Linked DNA regions of Homo sapiens: region 2 is linked to region 1. The links come from fine-mapping of genetic effects on gene expression. Tissue or cell type: aorta. Region 1 holds a variant in brackets; the other region holds the start of a gene. All regions are shown on one strand. Distances are from middle to middle.

What was found. PIP is the estimated chance that this variant, and not a neighbour inherited with it, causes the effect.
Region 2: CALHM2 starts here. The variant in region 1 is fine-mapped to the expression of CALHM2 in aorta (GTEx, PIP 0.98).

Annotation. Positions count from the first base shown.
Region 1 is chr10:103,424,861-103,432,966 of GRCh38, reverse strand. It overlaps PDCD11 (programmed cell death 11), which reads right to left. Exons shown (of 36, transcript NM_014976.2): 20 at 7,442-7,983; 21 at 5,576-5,638; 22 at 733-838. Among named protein-coding and RNA genes, the nearest start is that of CALHM2, 23 kb to the left of the region's middle. The variant G/A (reference allele first, on the strand shown) is at 3,856.
Region 2 is chr10:103,450,038-103,455,153 of GRCh38, reverse strand. It overlaps CALHM2 (calcium homeostasis modulator family member 2), which reads left to right and starts at 2,784. Exons shown (of 4, transcript NM_015916.5): 1 at 2,784-2,998; 2 at 3,869-4,071; 3 at 5,055-5,116. CALHM1 (calcium homeostasis modulator 1) reads left to right here. Exons shown (of 2, transcript NM_001001412.4): 2 at 1-1,914. LOC124902494 (a long non-coding RNA gene) reads right to left here and starts at 2,711. Exons shown (of 2, transcript XR_007062275.1): 1 at 1,918-2,711. RefSeq lists a silencer at 2,383-2,712 and enhancers at 2,551-3,172, 3,173-3,793, 3,742-4,111.

The sequences.
Region 1 (8,106 bases):
AATTGGAATAGAAGGTACTCCAGATGTAGAAACCAGCATGAATAAAGACAGGAAGGGAAAAAGACAGAAAAGCTTTTCAGAATGACTGCCACACAAGGTGCACGGAAGGTCAGATTATGAAGAGCCTTATCTGCCACGCTAAGGCATCTGGGGTGTATGAATGTCTATAGACAATAGGTAACTGAAGGGATCAAGCATCAGAGACGATCATGCTCAAAGATGCTCATCGAAGAGGAATCTGGCAACAATGGAGAGGTATTATTCTTCAAGGTCAAACCCAATCCAGCCGCCTCTCCTACATGTTTCAACCAGTACAGGCTGCTTTCCTTCCTTTTTGAACTCCTGTTCCAGTTGGGGTTGGAACACATAATCTGGCACCCAATTTCATGTTGTTTTACAGTGCACCTGAACTTCATGAAAAGCATGAATCTAAAATCCAAATTATATACATTTATATTCTAAATCTTGCCATGTATTTTACTTTCCATTTCTACAATTAACCTACCAACAATGAATTACGAGCTGCTTGCTAATTGTGTGTAAGCCATATTTTAGCTCCCTAATTAGACCAGAAGTTCTCTAGTGGCAGAGGCCACGTACTGTCTCCCACAAACCCAGCATGGTAGCACAGACTCAAATGCCTTTCTCTGCTAATGGCTTTTCTCTCCAACGTCATGACCTTTTTTCTGAAAGAAGAATGACATCTCATTGCCGAGTGGCAAAACTACTTACTTTCTTTAAGAAGCAAGTAACAGTCTGGCCGGCCTGGTACTGTTTAATCTTCTCCATGGGGCTAACAGAGTGAGTGTTAAGAGCAGTGTGGCCATCCTCCAGCTCACTGTTTGCAGAAAGGAAATGTAAACAGTAAACCCATCTCTGGATAAGACTTCCAGTTTGAAACCATCTCTCCCAAGTGGCCACGGATTGACTGTACGGGACTCCCCTACTCATACTCACCCTCCAAGGCCGTTTCTCTCCTCAAAGGGGAATGTCCACAATACTGGCCCGAGGCTAATCTTTTCCGTTTCATTCATCTACTTATGAACAAGCTGCTTTTAAAGCAGGTAGCCCACAATAGGCTTTATAAACTCAGGAAACAAAATTGTTTTACTTCTTTCATAATACTTTGGCTGTTGCTTTACTTTGCAAAACTGCATTCAAAAATTATCTCTCACTGAATTTGACAACTGTGTGAGTTCAGCAGGGGAGATATTAAGCCCATTTTATGCTACTGAACCAGGAGTTAAAATCAGGGCTTCTGACTCAAAATCCAGGGCTCTCTGCCCTATGCTACCCTTCCATTAGCATTTTCTTGATTTTTTTTTTTAATAAAATGAGCATTCATTTATTCAAGTAATTTTTTTTTCTTTTTTTTGAGACAGAGTCTTGCTTTGTCACCCAGGCTGGAGTGCAGTGGCACAATCTCGGGTCACTGCAACTTCCACCCCCCAGGTTCAAGTGATTCTCATGTCTCAGCCTCCCAAAAACTGAGATTACAGGCACCCGCCACCACACCCAGCTAATTTCTTTGTATTTTTAGTAGAGACAAGGTTTCACCATGTTGGCCAGGCTGGTCTCGAACTCCTGACCTCAAGTGATCCACTGGCCTTGGCCTCCCAGAGTGCTGAGATTATGGATGTCAGCCACGGCACTCAGCCTTTGATTTTCTTTTTTCTTCTCAGAAAAACCACAAAGGGATGTAGCCTGAAAGTTATCAGTCCACAATCACCTCAAAGGAATCACAAAACTGCCACCCCTACTTACCAATTCAAATAATTTCTAAGCCCAAATGAACCAAACTGGTACAAGTAATGTTAGTAAATTTGTAAAATACAATAGCAAGTGCTCCCAAATGTAGAAAATGGGAACTTTCCTATCTAGTAAAGTAAGAATTGCCCCAGCACTTTGGGAGGCCAAGGCGGGTGGATCACCTAAGGTCAGGAGTTTGAGAACAGCCTGGCCAACATGATGAAACCCCGTCTCTACTAAAAATACAAAAAATTAGCTGGGCGTGGTCGTGGGCGCTTGTAATCCCAGCTATTCGGGAGGCTGAGGCAGGAGAATCACTTCAACCCAGGAGGTAGAGGTTGCAGTGAGCTGAGATTGTGCCATTGCACTCTAGCCTGGGCAATAAGAGCGAAACTCCATTTAAAAAAAAAAAAGAGAGCAAAAGGACTTGAGTAGACATTTCTCCAAAGAAGATATACCAATGGCCAAGAAGCAAATGAAAAGATGCTCAACATCACCAATTATCACAAAAAGCAAATTAAAGGCACAATGAGATATCACCTTACCCCGGCAGGATGGCCACTATTAAAAAAAAAAAAAAAAGAAAATAACGAGTGTTGGCGAGGATGTAGAGAAATAGAAACCTTTGTGCACAGTTGATGAGAATGTAAAATGGTACAGCGATTATGGAAAACAGTATGGAAGTTTCTCAAAATATTAAAAATAGAATTACCATACGATCCAGTGATCCCACTTATAGGTATATACTCAAAAGAACTGAAATCAGGATCACAAAGAGGTATTTGCACACTCATGTTCAATGCAGCACTATTCACAATAGCCAAGAGGCACAAGCAACCTAAATGTCCGTTGACCAATGGGTGGATAAACAAAATGTGGCATATACCTATAATGGAATATTATTCAGCCTTGAAAAGACTGGATATGCCAGACACAGTGGCTCATGCCTATAATCTCAGCACTTTGGGAGGCCGAGGCAGGCAGATTGCCTGAGCTCAGAAGTTTGAGACCAGCCTGGGCAACAAGGCAAAACCCAGTCTTTACAAAAAAAATTCAAAAATTAGCTAGGCATGTTGGTGCGTGCCTGTAGCCCCAGCTACTCGGGGGACTGAGGGAGGGGGATCACTTGAGCCCAGAACGTCAAGGCTGTAGTCAGCCATGATCACGCCACTGCACTCCAGCCTGGGTGACAGAGCAAGACCCTGTCTCTAAAAAAAGAAAAAAGAAAAGAAAAGACAGGACATTCTGACACATGCTGCAAAATGGATAAACCTTGAAGACATCACACTAAGTGAAATAAGCCAGTCACAAAAGGACGCATACTGTATGTGTTCCATTTATATGAGTGAGGTACCTAGAACAGTCAAATTCACTGAGACGGAAGGGGAAATGGTGGTTGCCGGGGCGGAAGAGAGGGAGAAGCAGAGTTGCTGTTCCATAGGTATAGTTTCAGTCACGCAAGACAAAAAACTTCTAGAGATTTGCTGTATAACATGCATTTAGTTAACAATGCATGTTGTTTCAGGTAATGTATACCTGAAAATTGTTGAGGGTAAATGTATGTGTTATAGTAATTTTAAAAATTACAGTAATTTTTTACTGTAAAAAATTACTCATCTGTGATGAGGACACAGATACACATAAAAGGAAGACCATGTGAAGACATGGGGAGAAGATGGCCATCTGTAAGCCAGGGAGAGAGGCCTTAGAAGAAACAAAACCTGTCAACACCTTGATCTCAGACTTCTAGCCTCCAAAATTGTGAGAAAAGAAATTTCTGTTATTTCAACCAAACCAAACCAAACCAAACCCACCACATAAACGGATATGTGTTATCCTTTGTTCTTTTCCTGAAGTGATTTGAAACTTCCTCTCCAAAAAGAGCAACCCTCCAAAAAAGAAGGGTTGGCAGTACTGAATGGGGACCTATGAGAAAACTCACTGGCTAACAGGAATGCCAGAGACACCGTTTAAGACTCCTGAATGGCCTTGTCTCTTTCCTCTCAGCCCTCCAGAGGAGTAAGCAGGTAAGATGAATCTTAACCTTGAGTGCCCCTCAACACCTCTGAACTCAGCTCTAGAACAGACAGCATTCTCTTTGTGAAC[G/A]AGATCCCCATACGAAATGAGGAATAAAAATACAGCTATAATTCCTCCGTTAAGTCAAAACTGTCAGTTAAATGTTTTTCATCCTGACTTCAAAATATTTATTTTAAAACATAAGCATGAGAAATATCACTATGTTTCTCAAGAGCCTTGAGATTAAAACAAGTCACAGTACAACAAAGGTCCATGGAGGAAGTGGAAGATGTCTGGCCATCTGTCTGGGAGTGTGTCTGGCCATCTGTCTATCTGTTATTATAACTCTACATCTCCCACCTCCTTAACAAATCCACTCAATTCCTGTCATGGCCCACTCTGCTACAGCCAAGTACCCCCACTCTGGCTCATACCATAGTCTTCCAACACCAGCAGTGTTAATGAGGGGTTCCTCAGTACTCCTAGGATCAAAAACCATTTAGGATCTCAGTGTTCCCACAGAGTTCACTGACTCATCCCCCATATATCTGTTAAATTAAGATATCTACCCTTAGTTTGAATAAACTACTTAACCTCAACCCTAATTAAGGGTTTAATTAAAACAAGACATCACATGTCAGAGTTGAAGATACTGCAGGCTGAAACCATTAATATGAAGAGGTTTCTTCATTTTTCCAACAAAGACTGGAGGATAAATACAATCAAAATCTACAAAACTAAGAAACCACAGTTAACAAATAGGAATGTAATTCATCCCCCAAATCTTATTATTCTGAAATTTTAGTTTAGGGCTTACTTTGAAGTTCCAAAAGTGTTATTAGCATCTGAAACTCAATGTGCCAGGAATATTTACTTTGTGTTTTTTTTTTTTCTTTTGAGACGGCTTTCGCTCTTGTTGCCCAGGCTGAAGCACAATGGCGAGATTTTGACTTACTCCAACCTCCGTCTCCCAAATTTAAGCAATTCTCCTGCCTCAGCCTTCCAAGTAGCTCGGATTACAAGCGCCCGCCACCACACCCGGCTAATTTTGTATTTTTAGTAGAGATGGGGTTTCGCCATGTTGGTCAGGCTAGTCTGGAACTCCTGACCTGAAGTGATTCATCTGCCTCAGCCTCCAAAAGTGCTGGGATTACAGGCGTGAGCCACTGTGCCTGGCTCTGGAAGTTACTTTGGAGACCGTTCTGTAAATCTCTAGGTGCATTAAGATTTACAACCTGGCTGGATCCCAGGACTGAGCCACAGAGCCTTTCTTAATTAAGGTCATACACACCTAGCTTCATTCACTAAGGGTCTATCAATCTGAGAGGCTGGGTTCTTTTAGAGAACTCCTCGTTCTCCTCCCCACAGAGTATCTCATGGAACACCCTTCTCTTCAGAATCTACCCCACCATGACCTGAAATTCCTATTCAGCCTCCAGCCCACCACACAGTCGTCTAGGTTGAAATAACAGGTATTCTTGGATACATGTTGCTTATTTAGGGAATTACTGAGTTATAGAAAATTGGGTTGAGAGCAAAAATGTTTCTTTTTGTGACATGCTGACAAACAGAACTGAAACCAGGCTTTAAATTGATACTTAAAACCTGTACACAGCTTTTGCATTAATTTTCATATGATCCCTCCAGCCCTAGGAGAACCAAATATCCCCACTAGAGAAACAAGAAAACTTGGACAGAGAAAGGCAAAAATCAATCCTAACACTGGTAAAATCAAGATTCGAATTCGGGATTCCTAATTCCAAAGCCCAGTGCTCTTTCCGTAAGACAGTGCTGCTAATGTCCCCCTCACCTTGGCCGAACACTCAGCTCCGGGATGGTTCGAACGAATCTGGGGTGACTTATTGGGAGATACCTGGAGAAACAAATAAGCTGAATCATTTCTCTTCATCTCTGTAACACAGTAATCTGTAGGTCAGGATTTCTCCCTACTCTCCACCAAACCAAGCTCACAAAAGCACCCTGTTCCACTGTCACACCACCACTGAAGACAGATGTGTCAGGCTGAAGGTTTCCATTCCCAACCTTTGCAGTTATTAGTAAGGAGCAGGCTCATCTGAATTTTTTTTTTTTCTGGGACAAGGTCTCACTCTGTCACCCAAGCTGGAATGCAGTGGCGCAATCATGGCTCACTGTAGCCTCAATCTCCTGGGCTCAAGCAATCCTCCCAGCTCAGCCTCCCAAGTAGCTGGGACTATAGGTGTATGCCACCATGCCCAGCTAATTTTTATTTTTATTTATTTATTTTTTTTTTTGTAGAGATGGGGTCTCACCATGTTGCCCAGGCAGGTCTTGAACTCCTGGGCTCAGGTTTTCCACCTCCCTCATCGTCCCAAAGTGCTGGGATTACAGGGTTCAGCCACTACACCCAGCCTCACCTGATTTTTTTTTTTTTTTTGAAACGGAGTCTCACTCTCTTGCCCAGGCTAGAGTGCAATGGCACAATCTCAGCTCACTGCAACCTCTGCCTCCTGAGTTCAAGTGATTCTCCTGCCTCAGCTTCCCGAGTAGCTGGGACTACAGGCACTGTGCCCGGCTAATTTTTGTTTTTTCAGTAGACGGGGTTTCACCATGTTGGCCAGGCTAGTCTTGAACTCCTGATCTCAGGTGATCCACCCACCTCAGCCTCCCAAAAGTGCTGGAATTACAGGCGTGAGCCACCGTGCCTGGCCTGATCTTTTAGGATTGTCATATCAGATCCTGAAAACAATTTTCCTTACAGTCTATATACTCCAATTCTTTCATTCTAAAAATAAGGAAACTGAGGTCTTTATTTAGAGGATAATTGACTTACTGAAGACCCCACAGTTAGCTACTGAAATTAATATGCAAATTATTGGCCAGACTTTGAATTCTTTTTTTGCTGTTCTTGTTATAGCAAGAATTTCTGCTACAGTAACATGTGGCACTAGATTTAAAGTAAATGAGGATAATTAAAGTGGGAGGTGGAGAATGACAACTGCAGATGTATACAGCGCAGTAACTGAGGCCAGCAACCCACTAGGCAAAGAACAGACTACACGTTCTCTCTTTCAGTCTTCACCATGGCCCTACAAAGTAGTCGCTACCATGACTCTCACGTTACAAATTAAGAAAATAAAATTTGGACTTAAGTAGCTACTGCCACATGGTCACAGTTAATCTAGAATTCAAACCCGGGTCTGACTCCAAACCCATGTTCTTAACAACCACACCATATATTCCATATTTTTAAAAAGAATAATGCACTGTAATCCCAGCACTTTGGGAGGTGGAGGTGAGCAAATCACAAGGTCAGGAGATTGAGACCATCCTGGCTAACACAGTGAAACCCCATCTCTATTAAAAACACAAAAAGTTAGCCGGGCGTGGTGGTGGGTGCCTGTAGTCCCAGCTACTTGGGAGGCTGAGGCAGGAGAAGGGTGTGAACCCAGGAGGCAGAGCTTGCAGTGAGGCGAGATCACACCACTGCACTTCAGCCTGGGCAACAGAGTGAGACTCCGTCTCAAAAAAAAGAAAAAAAAAAGAATCTTGCAAAATAATTCTTTGGTGAATGCCTTTTGTTAACTAAAAGAGAATCTGACTTACATGCAACTTTTTGGAGCCCACCTACTTTCCCAGTCCTCCCACAACAACAACAATCTCCCTCGAAGCCAGCCCACCCCCAGAGCCTCCATACTTGAATGTCTTCATGTCTCGCCCGCCAATCACTCGGGCAGTGACCGTCTTCCCAACCTTCAGCTTGGTAGTAGGAGAGGTGCCCTCTGGAACATCATCTAGAATGTGGGAGGCATGGATACAGCCAATAATGCCATCTTCCAGAGTCACAACCACATGGGTAGGCTTAATGGACTTGACAGTCCCTGTGACCATGTCCCCGATGGAGAGGGTGTGCTTCTTTATGGTCCCTACAGTCAGAGCTGGATCCACTTCTTCATCCTCATCAACTGTCTCAGAGTCCTTCTGGGTCGGCCTCATGGTCCTCTTGGCAGCCGGCCCCTCCACAGCCAAAAGAAGGCCAGTCACTCCTGGTTCTGTGGTCTTGAGGGTTAGGGAGACACCCTGTCCCACCTGCAATTTCTCTGAGTCAAAGCGGAAGGTGTCGTTGAGGTGAGAGGTCAGGGAGAAAGCTGCCAGGTGGCCCGTCTCTACCAAGGAGGCAATGGCAAAGGACTTCTCCAAGTGCTGCACAATCGCCTGGTGTTCGCTGCCTTTCCTCAGCTAGAAGAGAGAAAAGCCACCATCCCTGCTTTCCTTACACAGCATGGTCACTCACTCATGGCCCCACTGGGCAGGGTGTGGCTGAGGAAACCCTCTGGGGTCCCAAGGCTAGGGAACTCAAGG
Region 2 (5,116 bases), 24 kb before region 1:
GGCAGATCCACACTCCCTAGCACTCGCCTGCCCATTGGAGGCAGGAAATTTGGAGCTGGAAGGGGATCTGATGCCTTCAGGTGTGACACTGCCCTGGATGGCCCTAGGGCAGTGGGCCCATGAGCAGTATTAGTCTAAAGGGGTCGGAACTGTCATGGCAGGTACAGGGACCAATGGCTCCCCTCTGCCCAGCCCTTCCCAGGCTGATGTTCACTGTCTCCTCCCAGGTTCAACAGACATCCCTGCCCCAGGGTCCACCCTCGTCTGTGGCTGTTCAGTACCTCTCTTCCTTTATGCTCCGGGCTCGGGGAGTGGGAATCATCAGGCGTCTCATGAAGTGGGAGCCCTCTGATTTGGGCAAGCGTGTCGTAGGTGAGACTGGGTGTGCCGGGGCAGGTCCATAAGGACATGACACACAGCCTACCTGGTGTGACACACCTGGGGTGACAGGCGATGAGACAAGATGTCAGAAGCTAGGTTCACATGGAAGAGGTCAGAGTGTGTGGTCACCATGGGGGTCATGTGACAATTGTCCAGGTGGACTGCATGTTTATTTAGCACAAACCAAGCACAAAAGTCCTCCTGTAGAGGGGTCTTTGAAAAACCACCTTAATACCCCCGTCACATCCAGGTCTCCAGGGGAAATCAGACCATCCCCAAGGCTTGAGAAGTTAGACACAGAAGCTGAAGTCTCTCCATTTTTCTCAAAGACCCCACCTCTTGGGGATGGAGTTCTAAGAGGCTAAGAGGAGCTCCAAGGCTCTAGCCCAGGTGGGATGAGGGTGGAGGAGAGCAGTGTAAAGAGAAAGCAGCTCAGATTCCAGAGTGAGACAGAACTGGGTCAAATGGTGTCTCTACCACTCACAAACCCTGTCCCTGGGCCAGCTGCATCACTGCCTGTGCCTTCGTTTCTTCATCTATACAATGAGGATGAGGCCCCCCCGGCCCGCCATCATGGGGTTGCTGTGTGTAAAAGCACATGGCACATAGTAGGCACCCAGCACAGGGTGGCTAATGTATTTGTTGATTTCTGAACCTAAGGACTTCCTTCCTCCTCCCCTGGGCAGGGATGAGACAGCAACACAAACACTCGAGCTTCCATCTTGTTGAGGAGGAAACAGAGGTACAGATAGGTTTCTCAGCACCGCCCTCAGCTCTGAGACATAAGTCCCAAGCATCTAAGGATTCATTTTGATCTTGGCATGATTCCATCCTTTTTTATCCATCCTTCCCTCTATTCCCACTTCTGGGGTCCAGTTTCCCTCCTCTTAATTATTTGGGAGGAGTTGCTCAGATCTTTGTGGGCCAAGGTGGGCTGGGAGGGCTCTTCCAGGAGGTAGGAGTTGGTATGGGCCCTGAAGTCAGGGAGGATTAGGATGAGCAAAAAACAAGGTGTATGTTGGTGGGTGGCAGCACTTCCAGTGGGAAGAGAAGGCCCGGAGGTATCAGGAGGTACAAATGTGATGAAGAGCAAAGCTTTGGGTCAGGCACACCTGAGTTCAAATACCAGCACTGCAGGACTTGTGGCCAGTCACCCAGCCACTCTAAGCCTCAGTGTGTCTGTCTATAAAATGGATATTAGAAGACCTGCTTGGCCAGGCGGAGTGGCTCATGCCTGTAATCCCAGCACTTGGGAGGCCAAGGAGGGAGGATCACTTGAGCCTGGGAGTTGGAGACCAGCCTGGGCAACATAGCAAGACTCTGTCTCTGTAAAGTAATAATAATAATAAGAAGAAGAAGAAGAATAAAGAGAAGATTTATAATTTTTTTAAAATGAAAAAATTATTTTTTAAAAAAGACCTGATTTTCAGGATTGTGGTAAGGATAGAGGAAGATAACTTTTAGGGAAGGATCTGGGACTGTGTTTAGCACATGCTGGGATCTGAAACAAACAAATAAACAAGCAGAACTTGGTACCTTTTCTTTCCTTCGTACATATGGTCAAGCCCAGCTCAGGGAGGCCAGCGGGTCACTCGGCAGCTCCACCATGACGGAACCACGAGCACTGCAGAGCTGACAGATGTCGGGGGTCCTCTCCCTCCATGCTAAGGGTCATCTAGCCTGTCCGTAGACTCTCCTGTGCAGCATTCCTGACCCGTGACGCTTCAGCCCGCATCTTGACCACTTTTAGATACAGGCTGGGCAGCTCTGATTATTACACAGGGCTTCCTTCAGAAACCTGCCTCCTTGTAACTTTCACCCACCAGTTGGAGCTCTGCCTGCAGGACCCGGAGAATCCCTAGGCTCCTGAATTCAATCCTCAGCCCTCCAGGGATCCGAAGCAGGTCCCGGGGAGTTAGCTGACTATAGGTCAAAGAGTCAGCATTGGGGATGGTTTGTCCAGTCAATGGACAACTCTGAGGGAGAAGGGCCAGTAGAGGGTGGGGCCCTGGCCCTGAGCATCCTGCAGGGCTCAGCGCGGGCCTGACGACACCCTCCCTTGACCCTCGCGGGGTCTCCTTTGGTAGCTTCTGCCCAGCGGGGGTCAAGTACGTGGGGTGCTCTTGAAACTGTCATGGGGGGCAGGTCTGGGTCAGATCTCCCCAATGCCTCCACATCCCCACGTGGCCCTCCCGACTGGTCCCATTGGTGTGGAGCATGGCCCGGTCCGGGTCTGGGCCGAGGGCGGAGGGCCAGCACGGCCCAGGGACGGCGAGCAGCGGGTCGGTGGGACGCGCAGCAGCTGCAGAACAGGCATCTCAACTTCCTCTCGGCTCCTCTCCTCTCGCGCCGCCCTCGGGGCCCGCCCTCCTCTGCCTGGTGGCGCCGGGAGGCTGTTTTTCCACTCACTGGCGCGCAGACTCCATCCCACTGTTTTCTTCTCTCTTTTCTGGAGTTAGATTAGTCTGAAGCCGCCACCAGCCCCAGGCCCCCGTGCAGAAGAAAAGCGGGAGGGAACGGCGGAGGCCGCCGCTGCCCTGCACCGCCCTCCTGGAGGCCACTTGGAGAGTCCGGCCCCGAGGAGGCCATGGCCACAAGTGCCCACAGCTGGCCCCAGGTAAGGAAGGGGCCCTCCCTGGGGTGTGCCAGGTGTCAGCGGAGCATGGTGGGGCCTGTCCCACGCTGCCCAGAGGGAGAGAGGCCCCTAGCTGAGGTTCCCTCCACCCGGTTGAACAGGGAGCAGTCCTGCCCCTCCCCGAGCCGCCAGTCTCCTGTCGTCACTGATGTTGGAGGAGGTCCCACTGGGGGTCTGGATGTGACCCATCCTTGGCCTGGGGGCAGTGGTCTCAGAAGATGGCCTGGCCCATCCTCTGCTCACCACCCACCCTGTGCAGGTATCTTGTACCCCACTTTGAGCCAGTTTATGAACCCAGGGCCTCCACAGGGAGCTAATTAGGAGCCTAGAAGCCAAGAAGGGAAAAGGATGGGGCAAAGGGGGCTGACTTTAACCCATTCTTCCCCAGCAGTGATGCAAACTGCCTTTCCCAGGAAGTTAGGCTGGAAGCTCCAGGCTGTGAAGTGGGGGAAGAATCAGACTCCTCCTCCTCCTCCTCCTCCTCCTCCTCCTCCTGTTGTTCCTCCTGGTCCTCCTCCTCCAGCTTCTCCTTTTCTTGGAGTCTGCATGGCCACATGGCTCTGCCTGAGCCCATCTGGCAGCCTTCCTTGGCAGGGACAGAAGGGGTGATCTAGAAGGGGTGATCCCTCCATGAAGCATGGAAGGGAACAGGGCTAGGTCTGTGTTTGGCGCTCACCCCATCCCTCCACTCCCTGGCTTCCTCTGGCCTGGGGAGTTTTGTTTTTCACCCTCCAGAGGGGGAGGACATGGGGCCACACCCTGGCCTGTCTCTCAGGCTTGTGTGGGTGGAGGCTGGGAAGGGAGTTGGGCTAAACTTCGCTGTTGCCCGAGGCCATGGCCACTTCCCGGCAGGTTGCCAGCGTCGCTACAGCCCAGACCAAGGCAGAATAATCTCCGGATGAGCTGGTGGCACCGCTGAGCCTTTGGTCTCACCAGGGCTTCCTGTTGCTGGCAGGCGGGGTGGAGCGGAGCTGCTGGGAGGCTGCTGGATAGGAGAGGGGTCACGGCTGCGGAAGAGGAGGTTCTTCGGGACACCCGTGGATGGACACGGCAAGGTCAGTAGGAGACAGAAAAAAAGAGGGTTCACTTAGTGCAGAATCACCCTTATCCACTTCCCAAGTCTCCTTAGGTTGTGGTTAGAGGTCCTGCTGTGGCACCTCTGTATTTCTTGGGCCTCAGCAAGGCACTTTATCCTCTTCAGGTCTCAGTTCCCTGATCTTTGCAGGCAGGAGAATCGTCCCCACCCCAAAGACAAGACAGGGTGGAAGAGATGGAGAGTTTCACGCAGAGCACAATCAGGCATCTTTTATTCTTTTCTTTCCCTCCAACATCCCTAGGAAAGAGCAAGGCTCAGGATGATTTATCCTCTTTTCACTGATGAGGAATCTGAGGCCCAGAGAACAGTCATGAAGTGTGATCAGACCCTGAGGTCTCCAAAAAGATAATGTCCTTGCGAACTCCAGGGATTCTGGCATCTTGCTGTACCCACCCCAGCCCACACGGCAGGATCCTATCCAAGTCCCTTATCCACCCGGACACTCACTTTAGCTTTTACACCCTCAAGGCTGAGACCCTAAGGACACGCCCTGGATCCAAGGAGTCCCTGGCCCCTCTGCTAATATGCGCCACCTGGACTCCCAGAGGGAAAGCCGGTCAGCACCCCACATGCATTAGCACCATGGGCCACCCCCAAGCCCTACCCCAGGAGAAGCTCGTGGTGGCAAAAAGAACCTAAGCATTTGAGGCAGGTCACCCAAGCTTGAATCTCAGTCTGCCTCTCATCTGTGACCCTGGCGAGCCACTCGTCCTCAGGAAGCCTTCACTTTCCCTAGTGCACGGCGGGCACACAGCTCAACGTGGGACTGTGAGGATGGGAAATGAGGGGTGCCATGCACCCTGGAGGAACTCAGTGAACAGTGGCAACTGTCACTTCCCTGGGGCCCTATGGTCCTTCCTTTCTCCCCAGCCTGTCCACACTAGCATCTTCCTCAACTCCTGGTTTTCAGAGGGAAACACTTATCGGTCATCTGCTCCACAGGAAACACCAGGCCAACCACAGCTGGGGATAAAATAGCACAACCACACCCTGCCGTCCAGCGC